Regions from separate parts of the Homo sapiens genome. Here region 2 is linked to region 1. The links come from fine-mapping of genetic effects on gene expression. A gene starts in region 1. The other region holds a variant in brackets. All regions are shown on one strand. Distances are from middle to middle.

Region 1 (9,645 bases):
AGGGCTGGGCATGGTGGCTTATGTTTGTAACCCCAGTACTTTGGGAGGCCGAGGGGGGGAGGTCACTTGAGGTCAGGAGTTCGAGAGCAGCCTGGTCAACATGGTGAAACCCATCTCTACTAAAAATATAAAAATTAGCTGGGCATGGTTGCAGGTGCCTGTAATCGTAGCTACTTGGGAGACTGAAGCACGCGCGTCGCTTGAACCCAGAAGGCAGAAGTTGCAGTGAGCCGAGATCACACCACTGCATGCCAGCCTGGGCAACCTGGGCAAGAGAGTGAAAACTCTGTCTCAAAAAAAAAAAAAATTTACAAAGTTTTGCACAGAGCCTTGGAAAGGCCTGTGCAAGTGAGGGGTCCTGTAGCCTAAGTTTGATTAGGTTCACAATCACACCACCTCTGGGAGGAAAAGTCATTGAGCTGTTAATATCTTTTTATTTTAAATCCTACTCCTGGAAATCAGTTCAACAAAAGGATCGAGAGGCAGTGTGGCCTAGTGGGTAAGAACAGTAAAATACAAGGTCCTTTCCATAACCTACAGTGTCCTCCATGATTCCAGTGACTCTCTCCTTCCTTTGTCTCTTGACCCTCCATCCCCACTCTCGCTCCACTCAGCCACATGGGTCTTCGTGTTTAAGGTCTCCATGCCAGCCACATTCCCACCTCAAGGTCTTTGCCATTCCTTCTATCTGAACTGTTCTTCCTCCAGATCTCCACACTGCTTGCTCTTTCACCACCCTGAGACGTGTACTCAATATCTTCTGAGTTTGCAGTGAGGCCTTCCCTCACCAGCCCAAATCTCCTTTTCTTCTTTTTTCTTTTCCTATTCCTATTGCCAGTTTACCTACTGTACATGTTACTTTTTTTTTTTTTTTTTTTGAGAGGAGTTTCGCTCTTGTTGCCCAGGCTGGAGTGCAATGGCGCAATCTCAGCTCACTGCAAACTTCACCTCCCGAGTTCAAGTGATTCTCCTGCCTCAGCCTCCTGAGTAGCTGGGATTACAGGCGCATGCCACCATGCCCGGTTAATTTTTGTATTTTCAGTAGAGACGGGGTTTCCCCATGTTGGCCAGGCTGGTCTCGAACTCCTGACCTCAGGTGATCTGCCCACCTTGGCCTCCCAAAAGTGCTGGGATCACAGGCGTGAGCCACCGCGCCCAGCCTGTACATCTTACTTTTATCTCTTTCTGTTGTCTTTCTGCCTCCTCTAGAATGTAAGTTCCAAGAGGGTGGAGATAATTGTCAGTTTAGTTCACTGTTTAGAACTGTTATTGGTATATAACAAGCACTGGACAAAAGCATTGCTGAATAAATGAATGAAAGAGCACCACCTTTGGGCTGGGCGTGGTGGCTCATGCCTGTAGTCCCAGCGCTTTGGGAGGCCGAGGTGTGTGGATCACTTGAGGCCAGGGGTTTGGAACCAGCCTGGCCAACATAGCGAAACCCTGTCTCTACTAAAAATACAAAAAAGTAGCCAGGCATGGTGGTGGACACCTGTAATTCTGGCTACTTGGCAGGCTGAGGCAGGAGGATTGCTTGAACCCAGGAGGCGGAGTTTGCAGTGAGCCGAGATTGCGCCACTGGCACTCCAGCCTGGGTGACAGAAGCGAGAGGGAGACGCTGTCTCAAGAAAAAAAAAGAAAAAAAAAAGCACCACCTTTGGCTTTAAATAGATCTGGGTTGAAGTTTTATATATGCACCTGCCGGCAAGTGCCAAGTTACTTAACTTCTCTAAGGCTGTTTCTTCATTTGTAAATGGAAATAAAAGTACTTCATAGGGTTGAAGCATTGTTGTAAAGACTAATTAAAACCATGCCCATAAAGGGCATAGCTGAGTGCCAATCAAACTGTAGACACTCAGCAAATGTTAGATATTAGTAAATAAAAAAGTTAGCTATTAGTATAAAATGTATATGCATAAAGGTATTCATTATAGAACTATATATAGTATTTAAAAACAGGTATCAGAAATAGGAAAATGGTCAAAAGATTCTGCCACATCACTAGTAGAATATTAGTCATTAAAATGATTATTAAGACTTTGTAGAAAGAGAAAGCCTTTAAAAAATAATTATTTAAATAATATTATTAATAAATTAATAATAAATTTAATAAATATTCAATATTATTTAAAAATAATAAATATTTTTAAAAGCCAGTCAAATTTAGCAGTGGGGGGTTGTATACCAACTTTAGTGACACTAATGTTAATAAGTTCTGATAAATCACTACCATCGGACCAGCCAGAAAGCCTTTGAATGTAAAGTTACAAGAAAAGACCAGACATACCTGGCCTACCGTTGCTCTGATTTAAACTTCAGTGTTTCTAAAGGCCGAAGTTGAATTCCAGAGCATTCACTATGAATTCTAGAGCACAACTTAGAAATAAACACTGCCAGGCCGGGCGCGGTGGCTCACGCCTGTAATCCCAGCACTTTGTGAGGCCGAGGCGGGCAGATCATGAGGTCAGGAGATTGAGACCATCTTGGCTAACACGGTGAAACCCCGTCTCTACTAAAAATACAAAAAATTAGCCGGGCGTGCTGGCGGACGCCTGTAGTCTCAGCTACTCGGGAGGCTGTGGCAGCAGAATCGCTTGAACCCGGGAGGCGGAGCTTGCAGTGAGCCGAGATCCCGCCACTGCACTCCAGCCTGGGCGACAGAGCAAGACTCCGTCTCAAAAAAAAAAAAAAAAAAGAAATAAACACTGCCAGATATTGGGTGTACATTTTTCTTGTTCTTGTCTTTTCTCATGCACGTGTACTTTTAAGTTTATCAGAGAAACTTTCCTTAGCCCTCCACCTAAGCCAGATAACCCCTGTTTTCTTTCACTGTACCTTGGTTATGAGTAGTGGGTACAAAACAATGGTGGTGGTAGTAGAGGGAAATAAACAGAATAAACCTCAGGCAATATCGTCAAGTATTATCTGTTATTTATATAAATATCTAGCTTTTATATCAAAATTATCTTTTTGTAAGGCTGTATCAATTTATATTCCCACCAGCTGTGTTCTTCGTAGATTTGCTATCCATTGGTTCCCAAATGTTGTATACTCTCATTACACTGTGGAATATTTAATGCCTTTTTGTTATGAAAAAACTGTTTTTATTAATTAACATCAAGGATATGGTGCTGACAAATATTCTCTAAAATTATGGAATGTTGGAAACTCTGCTGTCTGACATCCTTTCCGTGTGAATGGAACATCCCATTCTTGTCCAGAGCATCTGAGCCATACAGGTCACTTTGACACAGGATTTTCAATACAGGTACAAAGCTTTAGATAGAGTTTTCAGACCCAACGTTTCACATTTGTCGTAATTTTGAGATTTCCAAGGAAAGAGCCTGCTTCCTACTCAGGTCTGATGTTAACCTGATGCTGCACACAGCTCTGCTTTGCTTCGAGTCTATCAAACACTGCTCCAGTTAATTCTTACCAAAAAATCCCCCCATTCCCATAACCCAATAATGACACTTCCGTTTGATGAGAGGCATTGAGGTTCCTCTGGAGTGCAGTCTCCCTTGCTGCAGCAAGTTAATAAATCTAACTTTGTTGACTACAGGTTTGTTCCTGGTGCTCTTTATTGGAAGACTTTAGCAATCTTAAACTGCTGGCCCCAAATCCCAAAACAACGGGAAACTCTACTCAGTATCTTTTCTTTTTTTCTTTTTTTTGAGATGGAGTCTGGCTCTTGTCCCCCAGGCTGGAGTGCAATGGTGCAATCTCGGCTCGCTGTAACCTCCACCTCCCGGGTTCAAGCGATTCTCCTGCCTCAGCCTCCCAAGTAGCTGGGACTACAGGCGCCCTCCACCATGCCCGGCTAATTTTTGTATTTTTAGTAGAGACGGGGTTTCATCATGTTGGCCAGGCTGGTCTCGAACTCCTGACCTCGTGATCCGCCCGCCTCGGCCTCCCAAAGTGCTGGGATTACAGGCGTGAGCCACCGCGCCTGGCCAGTATCTTTTCTTAAAGATTCCTTCTTATACAAGTTGAATTAGACAAGATGGATCATTTTGGCTTTTAGTTCCTCCAACATTCCAACCTAGTTAGAGCGGCTTTTCTCTGTGCATGGAAAATTCTTCCCCCAGATCTCTTGCCTGGCTGGCCCAGTTCATACCTAAGGTAGCCATCTGTCCTCACACTGCCGCACCCCCACCCCGTCACTCCACCTCATCATCTCATTTCATTTTCCTATTTTTCTAATCACTCTCTGAGATTATCTTACTTCATTATCTATTTGTTTATAAATTATCCCAATGAGGATGTTAAGATCAGGAGAGAGGGTACCACGACAGCGCTGACAGCCGCAGCTGCCCAGTGTCTAGAACTGTGCCCAACAAACACTTGTGGAATGAGTAAGCAGACGAGGAACTAGACACTTCGTTTGCCTTCGTCCCCTTTAAATACCCTCCAGGTGGACCCAGCCGCATTAAAACTCTGAGAACTAGGTGAATGGCATTTGGCCTCGCCACTGGCCGGAGCGTTTGCCGTTGATCCAGGCAACCACTGTTTTCCCACCAGTCGTGTAGTCGCTCTACCTGGCTCCGCCCCCCAGGACGCCGAGCCTCGGCCGGGCGGTAAAATCGGCGCTTACCCTTTAAGCGGCGGGACTTCTGGTCACGTCGTCCGCGGTCGCCGGAAGGGGAAGTTTCGCCTCAGAAGGCTGCCTCGCTGGTCCGAATTCGGTGGCGCCACGTCCGCCCGTCTCCGCCTTCTGCATCGCGGCTTCGGCGGCTTCCACCTAGACACCTAACAGTCGCGGAGCCGGCCGCGTCGTGAGGGGGTCGGCACGGGGAGTCGGGCGGTCTTGTGCATCTTGGCTACCTGTGGGTCGAAGATGTCGGACATCGGAGACTGGTTCAGGAGCATCCCGGCGATCACGCGCTATTGGTTCGCCGCCACCGTCGCCGTGCCCTTGGTCGGCAAACTCGGCCTCATCAGCCCGGCCTACCTCTTCCTCTGGCCCGAAGCCTTCCTTTATCGCTTTCAGGTACTTACCGGAGACGGGGGGCGTGGAGACTACAGGCCCCAGGAGGCCCAGCGGCGGCTAAGCGTAGGCTGGCATGTTGCGGGCGCGCGGTGCCTGCTGGGATTTGTAGTGGGTCCGGCGCCGGCGGTTTAGGGCGGGGTCCTTTGGGCCCGGGGAGGCTCTGGGATCTGGAGCGGGGTGCTGGATAGCTGGAGTTGTGGGCTGGCCTGGTGGGGAGGGGTTGACTTCACTGGTATAGTGAGATTGTGCTTCCCGCTCTTCGCACTCAGTGAAGGAAGCAGTGAGATTAGTCGTTGGTAGTTGTCAATCTGTTGGACGCTGGCGATTAGGTCCGCCTGGAGCATTGCCCTCTGACCTCCCTCTGTCACCCACGTGGGTGGCCTGTAGGTGTCAACTTCACCAACTTATAGCTGAGTTCCTTTCACGTTTATGGAGTTTTTTTGTTTTGGTTTTCCTATAGGAGTGATTTAAAGTCAGAGATACAAAGAACGAGTGTATTGTTCTGCATTTCCCTCTAGACCTAATTTAGTGTCCCCCACGTAGTAATAGAATGTACGAAGGAATGGGCAAAGAGTACATTTGTCCAGAAATGGAAGGCCTTGTTATTTTCTTAAGCATGAAGGAAACAGTCCAGAGTAACATTTCTGTCAAGAGAGTGCCAGTTTTCTGAAGGTTATCTGTATTCACCAATTTCTGATTTAAAACTTCAATCAGTGGCAGGTCAGATAGCAAGATCTGGCATTAATTTCAGCCCTTTACTTGGCCTATGGATAACATTTTCTTGTCTTTCCCTGTCTTCACTGGGTGTTACTTCTTGGTTTCCTTTGCTGGTTCCTTATCTTCCTGACTTTTAAATGTTAGGATGTGCCTTGGGAATCAGTTATAGGACCTTTTCTATAGACTCTCCCTAGCTTTAGGTGGTCTCATTCATTCAGCCTCAGGGCTTTACATACTTTCTATAAACTGGAGATTCTGAAATATAAATATAAATATCTTCAGTCCAGATCTGTCTCCCTATTTCCAGATTTGTGCATCCAGCAGTTACTTGAAATCACGACTTGGATGACTAAGAGTCATCTTCATCTTAACGTGTCCAAAACTGAATCCCCTTTCCCCCTTTGCCTTAGAAGTGAATAGCAACTCCGTTATTAGAGGAGCTGAAGTTAATTGTCGGAGTCATCTTTTATTTTTCTTGTTTTTCTCACACCCCACAATCTGTCAGCAAATCCTATTGACTCTACTTGAGACATATATCCAGAATACAATCCCTTTTCATTCTCCATTGCAAGCCATTATCACTGCAATCTGGTTCCTTTCCATCTTTTCTCTAGACAGCTAGAGTGATCCTTTTAAAACCTACATCAAGTCCTGTCTTTCCTCTGTCCAGAATCCTACCATGTCTTCTTAATGAGTAAAATCCAAGTCCTTTCAGTGGCCTGCAAGGCCCCTGCTGCTTCTCTGACCTCATCTCCTACTACTCTCCAACTTGTACCTTAGGCTCCACAATGAGATCCTTGCTGTTACTTCAGTGCTTATCTGGATCTCTCCTCAGGGCCTTTGCACATGTTGTTTCTCTGCCTGAGGAAGATAACCGTGGCTCAGTTGTTTACCTCCTAACCTTCTTCAGATCTCTGCCCAAATGCCGTCTTGTTGACAAGGCCTTCTCTGATGGCCGTACATAAAATAGCCCGTCCTTCACTCCACTCCCTTATCCCTTATCCTTCATTTTTCTTTCTTTCTTTCTTTTTTTTGGAGACGGAGTCTCGCTCTGTTGCCCAGGCTGGAGTGTATATGGCGCAATCTTGGTTCACTGCAACCTCTGTCTCCTGGGTTCAAGCAGTTCTCCTGTCTCAGCCTCCCAAGTAGCTGGAATTACAGGTGCACACCACCATGCCCAGCTAATTTTTGTATTTTAGTAGAGACGGGGTTTCGCCATGTTGGCCAGACTGGTCTTGAACTCCTGACCTCAGGTGATCCACCCGCCTCAGCCTCCCAAAGTGCTGGGATTAGAGGCGTGAGCCACTGAGCCTGGCCTTATCCTTCATTTTTCTTGCTACATATTACCCTTTGGTATTTATTAGTCTGCTTCCCCTCAGAGAATAAGGCTCCATGAGAGCCGTTCACCACTGTCCTTGTTACCTGGAATAGTGCCTGGGACGTAGTAGGTGCTTATATATTAACTGAGTTGTTGGAAGTAATTGGGCACTTGCTGTGTGCTGGGCACTGGGGTACAATAGTAAATAGGACTGAAAAGGTTTCAGAGCCTGTGAAGACATAGAGGCACGTGTTTTAAGGGGTGTAATATTTGATAGGGTGTTCCACCCAGAAAGGCCTCAGAGAAGACATTTGAAGAAATTGGAATACTGAGGAGCCAGCCAGCCAGCTTTGGGTAGATCTGGCTCTGGAGACAACCTTCCAGGAAGGACTAGTAAGTGAAAGGCTCAGAAGTAGGAGCTGGGAACAGGAAGAAGACTGGGTTGCCAGCTGGCACAGGGTCAGCTGTAGGGTGAGGATTAGTAGATGACAGCAGGGAGATAGCCAGGGCTGGGTGTAGTAAAGCTAAGATGGAAAGGTGGGTTAAAGCTAGATCATAGTTGAGCCTTGTAGGTCATGTTAAGAGGTTTGAACTTTATTTTGAGGGCACTATGAAGTCTTTGGAGCCTTGTGAACAAAGGACTGACAGATTGCCCCGACTATTCTGTGGAGTGGACTTTGTGTGTGTATGGAGGGGGTTGAAGGAGGAAGGGCTAGGTGATGAGATCAGAGAGATGAATCCAGTTAGGAGGCCAGAGAGATGGTGGTTTGGATCAGTGTGGCTGTGAAGATAGAGAAAAGGGCATAGACTTGGCAGAGGGGACGAGATTACAGCCGAATGGATATAAAGAGTGAATGGGTGAAGCGAGCAGGACTGAAAGATACTACTGTTTTCACAGGAGCAGCTGAGTGGATGGCGGAGCCCTTGACTGAGATGGGGAATGGTCAGGGATACCTGGGTTGGGAGTGGGGGCTGGTATGGATGAAGAGTTAGGTTTTGGCTGTGCTAAGTCTTGAGATGCTTTTCAGGCATCCATGTGGCGAGGCCAAGGGAGCAGTTGGATATAAAAACATGACTCTGGAGTGCAGCTGGAATTGCATACTGTTCTGTGTTTATTACTTTACTAAATATTTGTTGGCTGAGAGAATGTTGTGTACTTTGTCCCTGGTGGCTTGTTGGGTAATGTGTGGTCATGGGGAGCAATGGTGGCATATTAATGTGTGAGAAGGACCTGGTCAAAACCGGCTTGTTGTCCCTGTTAGCAAAATCCTCACTTGTGTAGTGACACTAGTGACTACACGATGTAAATAAGCACATTGTAAAGAAGCAATGTAAATAAGCCTAACAGGCTGCGGGTGTATAAGGTTAAAAGTGGTGAACTGATTAAAAAGAGTAATCGTTCTTGTCACATCTTCCACAATTTTGTCATCTTCCCTGTATTATTTCTTCTCAGCTGCCAGCAGGAGGCAGGACAGTGTACTGCCCAGGTGTGAAAAGACCAACAGCTGTACCTTGTCTTTTCTTCCTGTTACTCTGATTCTTGCCTATTTTGGACACATGTAACTTTCAGACCCACCTGGAGGAACTCATTTGCAAATGAAGCAGTCAAGGAAAAACTGCATTTGAGAGGCTGCTGTGCACGGACAGTGTGCGGTGTGCTTTAGCAGAGTTCTGCTAGAAAGTTCCTTTTTTCCTTAGAAGCTGAATCTTTCACAACTTACAAAAATGGGGGAGTGATTGATTTAGAATTGTGTGCTCATGTTGGAAGTGACAAGTTATTTTTCCTCCTCAGCTCTAGATTCTTGTGTGTAGCTTGTTGGTTTAGAACGCTGAGGTTTATAATGTTATTTCTTTAGTTTGGATAGGTTGAAACAGGTGTGTGTTAAGACTCATTATACTGTTGTCTACGATTTCTCCCTATTCTGAGTCCCTCAGATTTATGTTCATCAATCAAATAGTTCACAATAATGAAATGTCTTCATATTAATCGTTGATTAACTACACAAGAGGTGGCAATTCCTGCTGCCTTTGTGTTTTCTAAGGTTATGTCTCCCAGGGCCGCCTGCATGGCTATATTTCTTCATTTCTTTGGACAAAATAACATCACCCTGTTACAACTTCCCTGAGGTCATGTCACTGAACTCTGACAGTCATCCTGAGATAAGTGTTACCCCCATTTTGTAGACAGCTTCAGTTTCAGTTTCTATTTCGTTGAGTCAAGGATAGTTCTAAGCTGTTTTGTTTAACTCCTTTGCATAATATCTACGAAAAAAATAAGTATGTAGCAAAACATTTTTGAAGGTGATTTCTTCCAAATCAATCATAGCAAATTGTTTTTCCTTTTCTATTCGAGTAGAAAGGCTGTTAGATTTCAAGTAGTTGAATCATGGTCTCAAGGCCTGGCTCAGTCCCCTGCTAGTTGTGTACCCTTAGGCAAGTTATTTATCCTGTCTGAGCCTCAATTTCTTTAGGATCTGAGGATAATATCATAGCATATTAACTTTGTTCTAAGACTCCATTGATTATACGATGCACCATCAATTTAATGCAACTTTTTTGGGGGACAGGGGAGTAGAAATTACATTCAACGAGTGTATTGATTGTAAGACACTCTAATTTC
Region 2 (9,645 bases), 23 kb after region 1:
TACTATTAGTGGCCTTTGTCAGAAGTTGAAATTGCATTAACTATGGGGTTAATTATGTGGTATTTTGAAATTATGGAATTACAGCTGTTTTATTTATTTATTTATTTATGAGATGGAGTCTTGCTGTGTTGCTCAGGCTGGAGTGCAGTGGCTTGATCTTGGCTCACTGCAACCTCCGCCTCCCGGGTTCAAGTGATTTTCCTGCCTCAGCTTCCCGTGTAGCTGGGATTATAGATGCACGCCACCACACCCGGCTAATTTTTGTATTTTTAGTAGAGATGGGGTTTCACCATGTCACCAGGCTGGTCTTGAACTCCTGACCTCATGATCCGCCTGCCTCGGCCTCCCAAAGTGCTGGGATTACAGGCATGAGCCACCGTGCCTGGCCTATAGCTGTTTTATTTTGAGGATCTTAAGTCAGCTAAATCTTTGAAGATCTTACATGAGCTATCTAAATCATTGCTTTCCTTGCTCATTTCTGGCCTCTTTTTGGTGTTTGAACATTGACAATAATGGTTGTCTAGTATTTTCTAGGCATGTGACAACAGTGGTTGTCTAGTATTTTCTAGGCATGTATATGGATGTTTTTTAAAAATTGAGATTATATGGTAATGCTTTGTTGCTTACTTTTTGTAAATAACAGAGCTTGACTCTTACATTTCTGAATCCATCTAAAATAATATAGTTTTGTTGTATTTTATTATAGGATTTTGTAATATTTATTGTATGATAAATAATAGGATCAATTTATAATTCTGATCAGTTGAGTTTCCCTTTACCCAGGTGAGGATTGTTGTGAAGAGGAGGGGTAAAAAGCATAGTAGATGTACACCTTTTTTAAGTGCCTCTGGAGCCTGGTTTTTACATGTCGACTTCTTTTGCAGTTGCTGATGATTCCTCTGATCATGTCAGTACTTTATGTCTGGGCCCAGCTGAACAGAGACATGATTGTATCATTTTGGTTTGGAACACGATTTAAGGTACTTTGCCTTGGTTGGAAAAGTGTCCTTTTCATTTGTCTGCAGAAATCCCTCTTCAGTCCAGAGATGTACTTTCTGACTCATCCAGAAGGGGTCACTGCAGAGCAGTGTACCATAGGCAAGCCCCTTTCTGCCCTCCTCAATCCCAGCTCTATTTAATTAGCCAGCCTGGAGTCCGTTGCTGGCCTTTGTTTCTTCACTCCCTCTGTACCTCGGGCCCCTCAAGGTTATGTCCCTGAGTGATCTTATGTGTCTGTGTTAGAGAGAAGGAGAGATAACTCATGTGAAACCCTGCTTTAAAAATCTGTTCTTATCCCTCCCTCGTTCCCTGTTATTTGCTTTATACTGTAGCTGAAACAGATTGTTTTTGCCCCCAAACACTTCTCTTTGTACATTCTTTCACAATTTTCCACCTGTAACATCTTGATTCTCTTCTTTGTATAAATCCTACCCATTCTTAATTTGAGTTGGAACTGAACATATTTCCTGAATCTCCTGCCTAGAATTAGTCTTACGTTTGGGCTTTTTCAATACTTTGTGTTTCTCTTTAGTACTTAGCACATGTAGCTGTAAAGTTATTTGAGTATAACCCTCTCTTTCCTAGTTTGTGAAGTTTCTTGCAACTCCTTTAGCTCTTGGTATGATGTCTTGGATTTGGTAAGGGGCTCAAATGTTGAGTTCATCTGGAGAGCTTTCTTATTTGGGAGAGTATTAGTTTAAGATATCAATGCATAATGAGATAAAAATTCAGAGGAATTTTGCAAGATATGTAAAAGAAGAACCTAAAAAGATGGGGTATGTTTATTTTATTTGTAGCAATTTGTTGGCTGGAATCTTAGTGTGATTCTCTCATGGGCCTTGCTTTTAGTAGCATCTGTAGGACACTCATCTGCTTTTTGAAGCTGTCTGTTTATAGCAGTTCAGCAGGGCCTGTATTGCATCAGACCTGTGGGCAAAGTACTGTGTCCTTCCAGTTACAAATACACAATTAAGTCTAGTTTTAGATAGGAAGGTTTAAGTATAGTGGGAATAATGCTAGATTGATCCTAGAAATTTTGCAGTGACCTTCCAGAGGATTTATATAAAGCCCTTGTCAGTGTATCCTTACCCACTTTAGTCCCCGTAGTAGCTGTGTCCTCGTCAGGTGTGGCTACTCACATTTGCATATATTCATTCCATCCTAGGCCTGCTATTTACCCTGGGTTATCCTTGGATTCAACTATATCATCGGAGGCTCGTAAGTGATATTAGATTTATTTAATTGGAAACTAATCCTTGGAAAATTTCCATTAGTTTTTATCTTTCTCTAACCTTTATACAACTTTAAAGAATCTCAACATTGACGCATTAGAACCCTATATTTATGGAATAATTTCACTTCGATTGAATTGATTAGATTGCAGGGCTTTAAGCATATTTAACCTTGAATGGTTGTGATTTTGTTAACTTATTGTTACACACAGTATGTTCCTATGTGTATAGTACAGGAATAAATATGTATTTCTGGATTCACTATTCTGATTGGGCAAACAGAGACCTAATTTTTGTCTGAGTTGGCTCCTCTAAGAGCTATGTATAAAATTACTATGTCTTATATTCTTAAGGCATTTCCAGAATGCCTTGGAAACTGCCTATCGGTCATAGAAATCCAGATTCTTAGATAGGATATAATTTTGCAAGTGGTTTGATGATACAGAACTTTTTTTTTTTTTTTTTTGAGACGAAGTTTCACTTTTGTTGCCCAGGCTGGAGTGCAATGGTGCGATCTTGGCTCATTGTAACCTCTGCCTCATGGGTTCAAGCAATTCTCCTACCTCAGCCTCCCGAGTAGCTGGGATTACAGGCGCCCGCCTCCATGCCCGGCTATTTTTTTTTTTTTTTTTTTTTGGGATTTTTAGTAGAGATGGGGTTTTGCCATGTTTGCCAGGCTGGTCTCAAACTCCTGACCTCAAATGATCTGCCTGCCTTGGCCTCCTAAAGTGCTGGGATTTCAGGCATGAGCCACCATGCCTGGATGATAATACAGAACTTTTGGCCAACCAGGGTCAAATATCTAGTCTATTGGTCAGGAATTAGAGCTAGACATAGGAATAGCTTTAATTTATCCAGTCAGAATTTTAAAGGGAGGATACCAAGATGCAACTTCTCTAAGAACTCCCATTTCTTCATTTTTTCTGTTTATTTATTTACTTATTTATTTTTTCAAGATGGGGTCTGGCTCTGTCACCGAGGTTGGAGTGCAGTGGCGTGATCTTGGCTCACTGCAACCTCTGCTTCCCAGGTTCAAGCAATTCTCATGCCTCAGCTTCCCGAGTAGATGGGATTACAGGTGTGCACCACCACACCCAGCTAATTTTTGTATTTTTTGTAGAGATGAGGTTTCGCTGTGTTGCCCAGGCTGGTCTCAAACTTCTGACCTCAAATGATCCGCTCACCTTGGCCTCCCAAAGTGCTGGGATTGCAGGCATGAGCCACTGCACCCAGCCAGAACTCCCATTTCTTATACTACAAACTACTTTTAATATTTCAATCCATTTTTATATTGCTGGTTCTTCATGTGTCTGACATATTTGCTCTGTGTGATCCTAACTTCTTCTGCATATTGCTGGGGAGAAGTGAATGGATGGAGCAGACTGTTTAGAGCAAAGCATGTTCTGAACTTGGCAAAGCTGCTCTTCCACCCAGGAAGGTGAAGTCTGAAGTAGTTGCAGGTGTTGATTTGCCCCTGACGGGAATCATGTTGCAGGTGAAGACAAAGAGGATTTGTAATAGTAACAGTAGATCTATACACTCTTGAGGTGACCTGTATGTAAGCCAAGGGAAAACTGAAGAAGGTCAGCGTTGATTTCAGGGTGCAAGTCGGCTTTCCTAAGTGATCTCTGTGGTGTCTTACACTCAAGGATACAAGAGGCAAGGGAGAAGTGCTTAATGGCTCCAGGAAAGGGGGAACAGGCATTTATTGTTCCTCTTTTCCTTACTCCCACGCTTCTCTCTTGGTAGCCTTCATGTTTGCCCACATTTTATAAATACAATATTCATGACTGAAAGCATTCAGAAGCATGCTTTGCAACTTCCCCAACTCTTGAGGCAGGAAGTAGCAAAAACAATATTTTGAGGATGGGCTGGTGCTTGAAAGAGAGGTCAGAGGGGCTGCTGGCCTTGAAGAGTGGCAGGCCTCATTGGTTCAGCAGGACTGATTTCCCGTCTCCCTCAGAATGCATTTGCCACTCAGACTACAAAAGTGCTCATTGTCAGCTCTCACAGACTCCCAGGGACTAAATGGGCTGCCTTGAAGGCTCTCTTCCTTATGCTATTAGTTAAAACTTGGTGCATCTCTATTGCTTGAATGTCTTTAAACTCATTTGGCTCTCTTTGCAGGGTAATCAATGAGCTTATTGGAAATCTGGTTGGACATCTTTATTTTTTCCTAATGTTCAGATACCCAATGGACTTGGGAGGAAGAAATTTTCTATCCACACCTCAGTTTTTGTAAGTGTTTTTGTCCTGTCTCATCTAACATTTTACTGCCTGTGTTCTTAGTGCATCCTAATGAGAGCTCCATGAGGAGTATGATTTACCCCTATGCCCCATCTGCTGGAGAAACCTGAGGCAACAAGTGACTTACCCTAGTCACACAGTCACAGGAAGTTAGGGATTAAAGCTTAGGCTCAGTTGCCTTCCTGTTACTCTTTTAGCCAGGGACCACTGACAACTAGATTCCAACATTACAGGAGGCATCTCAGCTCTCTGAGCCTGCTGAGGGACCTGATGCAACTCCAGAGTGCGAAACAGTAGGCTGGTGAATGGGCAGAGTCACAGGTTAGTGGGGTGTCTTTTCTTGGCCCATCAGTTTTTACCCATGATTTTGCCCAAGGAAGGGTAAGTTAGCGTGTTGGTCAGCAATTTTAAACATTTTTATATTAAATACTATGGAGTAGACATTTTACAGGACTGTTCAGAGTTAAAATGAGAGACTTGAGGTTTGTATAGGCCCAACCCCCTGGGAGTTTGTGCTCTTTATCTGCTTTTAGGGTTTACTGAAGTGGGCTGGTAAGGGCAACAGCTTTGATTTTTGAGACAAACTTGGATTTGAATCCCAGTCCCCTCAGATAGCAGTTTTTATACTGG[G/A]AAAGTTACTTAATCAAACCTCCAAGCTTCAGTTTGCAAGCCTGTAAATTGTGGGAGAAGCCCCTGTCTCACAGGACTGCATGAGGTAAGATACACTGTTGGGAAGCACAGTAGCGGGTTCTCGGTAAGTAAAGCTAGCTGCCATATTCCTAAAGGTGGGGGTAGGAGAGCAGGATTTTGACGATCTGAGAGGAGACGCGCACACACCCAGAAGCATGTAATAGTCGTGTGACCGTTCTGTCAGTGAGGCAAAAGGCTGTCGAAGAACGGGCCAGTTAAATCACCATCTGGGTGTCACAGCCTGCCTGACAATCATGCCTAATCTCATATCAGGGATATGCAGTAATAGCTTGCATTTGAAAGCTTTAAAAAAACAAACAAACCAAACCCTTCCACATCTTGCTAATTTTAATGTTTTGCAGTTCTGTCATTCCTCTAAGGGATCAGTGAGGGCAGTAAAACTTGAGCAGGCCTCCTCTTTCTCCCCTTCCTTTTATAGGGTAGGGGTATGTTTTTCAAAGACTTTTCAAATTGTGAACTGTAATATACAGAGATATACCATATTGGTGGTTGTGGTGTGTGTGTTTTTCTTTAAGAGAATAAAAAGAAACTTGTTTCTCTTCTGAGCCTTGAATTGCCTTCAGGCTAAAAAAACAAATGACCAATCTGGTTTCTAATTATCAAAGGACATAATAACAGCAGGTTTGGCTTTCTGATCTAGGTTTATCAAGTAGGATGGCAGATGCATCAATTAAAAAAAGCTTGGTGCTTTTGGGGGGCAGCCAACAGTTACTTTACTTTAAATGGCCATATTCTAACTTAACGGCTTGTAGCTACTTCTCAGTTGTGGGCAACACAGGATACAAGATTCTAGTGGCAAAATCAGCGAGCCCTGGAGCCTGCCTTCCACTTGAACTTTCTCTGTTGGGGGAAGTCCTTCTGCTAAATTTTGCATAAAGATCAGATGACAAAATACAGCTCCTTGCAAAAGCAGTAACTGCTTTGAAATTACCATAAATTTTTGTTGATTATGTATAATTGGGTATCTTTTTATACTAATTATTTGCATTTAATTTCACTATCTACTTAAGCAGTGGAGATGGCTTCCATATTGTCTTAGAGTGAGTAGCAAAGCAAGACAGCCCTAGCATTTTCTCCAGCAAGTGTTCTATTTTATTATGTACTTTGGAGGAATATTATTGTACCAGAAGGCATGGATGTTGAGAAACCAGCACTTGGAAAATACATTTTGATTTAATGGTAAAGCTGTATTTGTTTAAAATGGAGGAGGTGAGTATAGGAAGGTATAACTGCTTTTCTAAATGGAATGCTGATACATTTGTATCACCATTTTCCATTCCATTTAGAGTAGTTATATCTTCTCTGTACACACTAAATTTTGTGTTTAAAAGGGGTTTTTGGCCAGGCGTGGTTGCTCACGTCGGTAATCCCAGCATTTTGGGAGGCCGACGGGTGGATCACGAGGTCAGGAGATCGAGACCATCCTGGCTAACATGGTGAAACCCTGGCTCCACTAAAAATACAAAAATTAGCTGGACATGGTAGCGGGCGCCTGTTGTCCCAGCTACTCGGGAGGCTGAGGCAGGAGAATTGCTTGAACCCGGGAGGTGGAGGTTGCAGTGAGCTGAGATCATGCTACTGCACTCCAGCCTGGTGACAGAGTGAGACTCCGTCTCAAAAAAAAACAAAAAAACAAAAACCCGAGTTGTTGTCTGTTTTGGGAAGAGGCATGAAGGTATCGAGTATGATGTAAACAGACTCCAGTCACTGACTGCTGTCCCTTCCCAGGCAGGATGCATGTAGTATAACAAGTAGTGCAGGGCGCAGGCTCTGGAACCAGGCTGACTAGGTTGGAATCCTGTCACTTTCGAAGCGCTTCACTCAGTGTTGGCTCAATTTTCTTGTTTATAAAACAGGAGTAATAGTAATGCCTACCTCATGGGGTTATTGTGAAGATCAGATGAATTTATAAGCAGGCAGCACCTAGTGTAAGGCAATAATCACTGAGTAAATTCACATAGTAACTGCTCTAGTATAAGGTCAAGTATAAAGCCTGTCCTCTTCAGGGTTTCTGCTGTGGACAAGTCACCTGTCATGACTTACTCTTGCTGCCAAGAAGGGTTTAAGCGGAGGTATCAGATCATGCTCTCTGCCTTCAAGCAAAATTTTAAACATTAGGATCTGCTAAGTGGAATAGGTTTAAACACATTCTCAGTTTACTAATAAAAGAGTCAAAGATGGGAAATAGTTGGAAAATACTATTGAGAGTGTAGGCTTGGGTTTAAGTTCTCTTAGCTGTTCTGTGAACTCTTAGTTTATTAATTTTAAGGTGGGAAATCATCTAACCGTCTGGGGCCCCAGCTCTCCCACCATCTGTGAGAAGGGAAGAATGTACCTGGAAGGCAGATTCTGAATAAATTTTAAAACATACCCATACTTCCAACATAGAAAGCCTTCTTCCCCTGTCTCCTTTGATGGGCTCAGCTGAGAGCCTTTTAGAAATGCTGTGCAAGGCTCAAACATGCAGGCTGTGGATTTGGCCTTTGAAAGTGAATGTATTTTGTATCCTTTGATCCAGTTTGAGCCATATTTAGATATACCAAGATGCTATCAGTCATTCTTTGGTTGCTGGGCTTGTGGGTGTAATATTTTTGTTTCCATACTGTTCTGCATGGATTACTTTTATAAGCAGAGAAAAAAACGTTCAGAGTGTGAATTTAGCTGAAATCTGAATACATTTAAGAAACATGAAAAACGAATGCCGTCTGTGGTCAGGTCATGGGGCTGAGTACAGAAAAGACAAAGTTAAATAAGACGTCCCTCGCTGCCTTCAACATGACAAGTGCCATGGGAACAGCAGGAGAGGGAGGTGTTCTCGGAGGTCAGATAACTATGTGGAAGTGACTTTGTTCTCTTCTCTCCGTTTGTGTCCCCGTCTTTCTGCACCAGGTACCGCTGGCTGCCCAGTAGGAGAGGAGGAGTATCAGGATTTGGTGTGCCCCCTGCTAGCATGAGGCGAGCTGCTGATCAGAATGGCGGAGGCGGGAGACACAACTGGGGCCAGGGCTTTCGACTTGGAGACCAGTGAAGGGGCGGCCTCGGGCAGCCGCTCCTCTCAAGCCACATTTCCTCCCAGTGCTGGGTGCACTTAACAACTGCGTTCTGGCTAACACTGTTGGACCTGACCCACACTGAATGTAGTCTTTCAGTACGAGACAAAGTTTCTTAAATCCCGAAGAAAAATATAAGTGTTCCACAAGTTTCACGATTCTCATTCAAGTCCTTACTGCTGTGAAGAACAAATACCAACTGTGCAAATTGCAAAACTGACTACATTTTTTGGTGTCTTCTCTTCTCCCCTTTCCGTCTGAATAATGGGTTTTAGCGGGTCCTAGTCTGCTGGCATTGAGCTGGGGCTGGGTCACCAAACCCTTCCCAAAAGGACCCTTATCTCTTTCTTGCACACATGCCTCTCTCCCACTTTTCCCAACCCCCACATTTGCAACTAGAAGAGGTTGCCCATAAAATTGCTCTGCCCTTGACAGGTTCTGTTATTTATTGACTTTTGCCAAGGCTTGGTCACAACAATCATATTCACGTAATTTTCCCCCTTTGGTGGCAGAACTGTAGCAATAGGGGGAGAAGACAAGCAGCGGATGAAGCGTTTTCTCAGCTTTTGGAATTGCTTCGACCTGACATCCGTTGTAACCGTTTGCCACTTCTTCAGATATTTTTATAAAAAAGTACCACTGAGTCAGTGAGGGCCACAGATTGGTATTAATGAGATACGAGGGTTGTTGCTGGGTGTTTGTTTCCTGAGCTAAGTGATCAAGACTGTAGTGGAGTTGCAGCTAACATGGGTTAGGTTTAAACCATGGGGGATGCAACCCCTTTGCGTTTCATATGTAGGCCTACTGGCTTTGTGTAGCTGGAGTAGTTGGGTTGCTTTGTGTTAGGAGGATCCAGATCATGTTGGCTACAGGGAGATGCTCTCTTTGAGAGGCTCCTGGGCATTGATTCCATTTCAATCTCATTCTGGATATGTGTTCATTGAGTAAAGGAGGAGAGACCCTCATACGCTATTTAAATGTCACTTTTTTGCCTATCCCCCGTTTTTTGGTCATGTTTCAATTAATTGTGAGGAAGGCGCAGCTCCTCTCTGCACGTAGATCATTTTTTAAAGCTAATGTAAGCACATCTAAGGGAATAACATGATTTAAGGTTGAAATGGCTTTAGAATCATTTGGGTTTGAGGGTGTGTTATTTTGAGTCATGAATGTACAAGCTCTGTGAATCAGACCAGCTTAAATACCCACACCTTTTTTTCGTAGGTGGGCTTTTCCTATCAGAGCTTGGCTCATAACCAAATAAAGTTTTTTGAAGGCCATGGCTTTTCACACAGTTATTTTATTTTATGACGTTATCTGAAAGCAGACTGTTAGGAGCAGTATTGAGTGGCTGTCACACTTTGAGGCAACTAAAAAGGCTTCAAACGTTTTGATCAGTTTCTTTTCAG

The links.
Region 2: its variant is fine-mapped to the expression of DERL1 in whole blood (TOPMed, PIP above 0.99).

What each region holds. Positions count from the first base shown.
Region 1 is chr8:123,037,315-123,046,959 of GRCh38, reverse strand. DERL1 (derlin 1) reads left to right here and starts at 4,658. Exons shown (of 8, transcript NM_024295.6): 1 at 4,658-4,990. The coding sequence starts at 4,838. It also overlaps the pseudogene RNY4P5. RefSeq lists enhancers at 4,709-5,248, 9,168-9,297.
Region 2 is chr8:123,014,019-123,023,663 of GRCh38, reverse strand. DERL1 (derlin 1) reads left to right here. Exons shown (of 8, transcript NM_024295.6): 5 at 885-980; 6 at 2,165-2,217; 7 at 4,359-4,469; 8 at 8,079-9,645. The coding sequence ends at 8,217. The region is part of intron 1 of LOC124902013 (a long non-coding RNA gene); the gene reads right to left. Among named protein-coding and RNA genes, the nearest start is that of DERL1, 23 kb to the left of the region's middle. The variant G/A (reference allele first, on the strand shown) is at 5,109.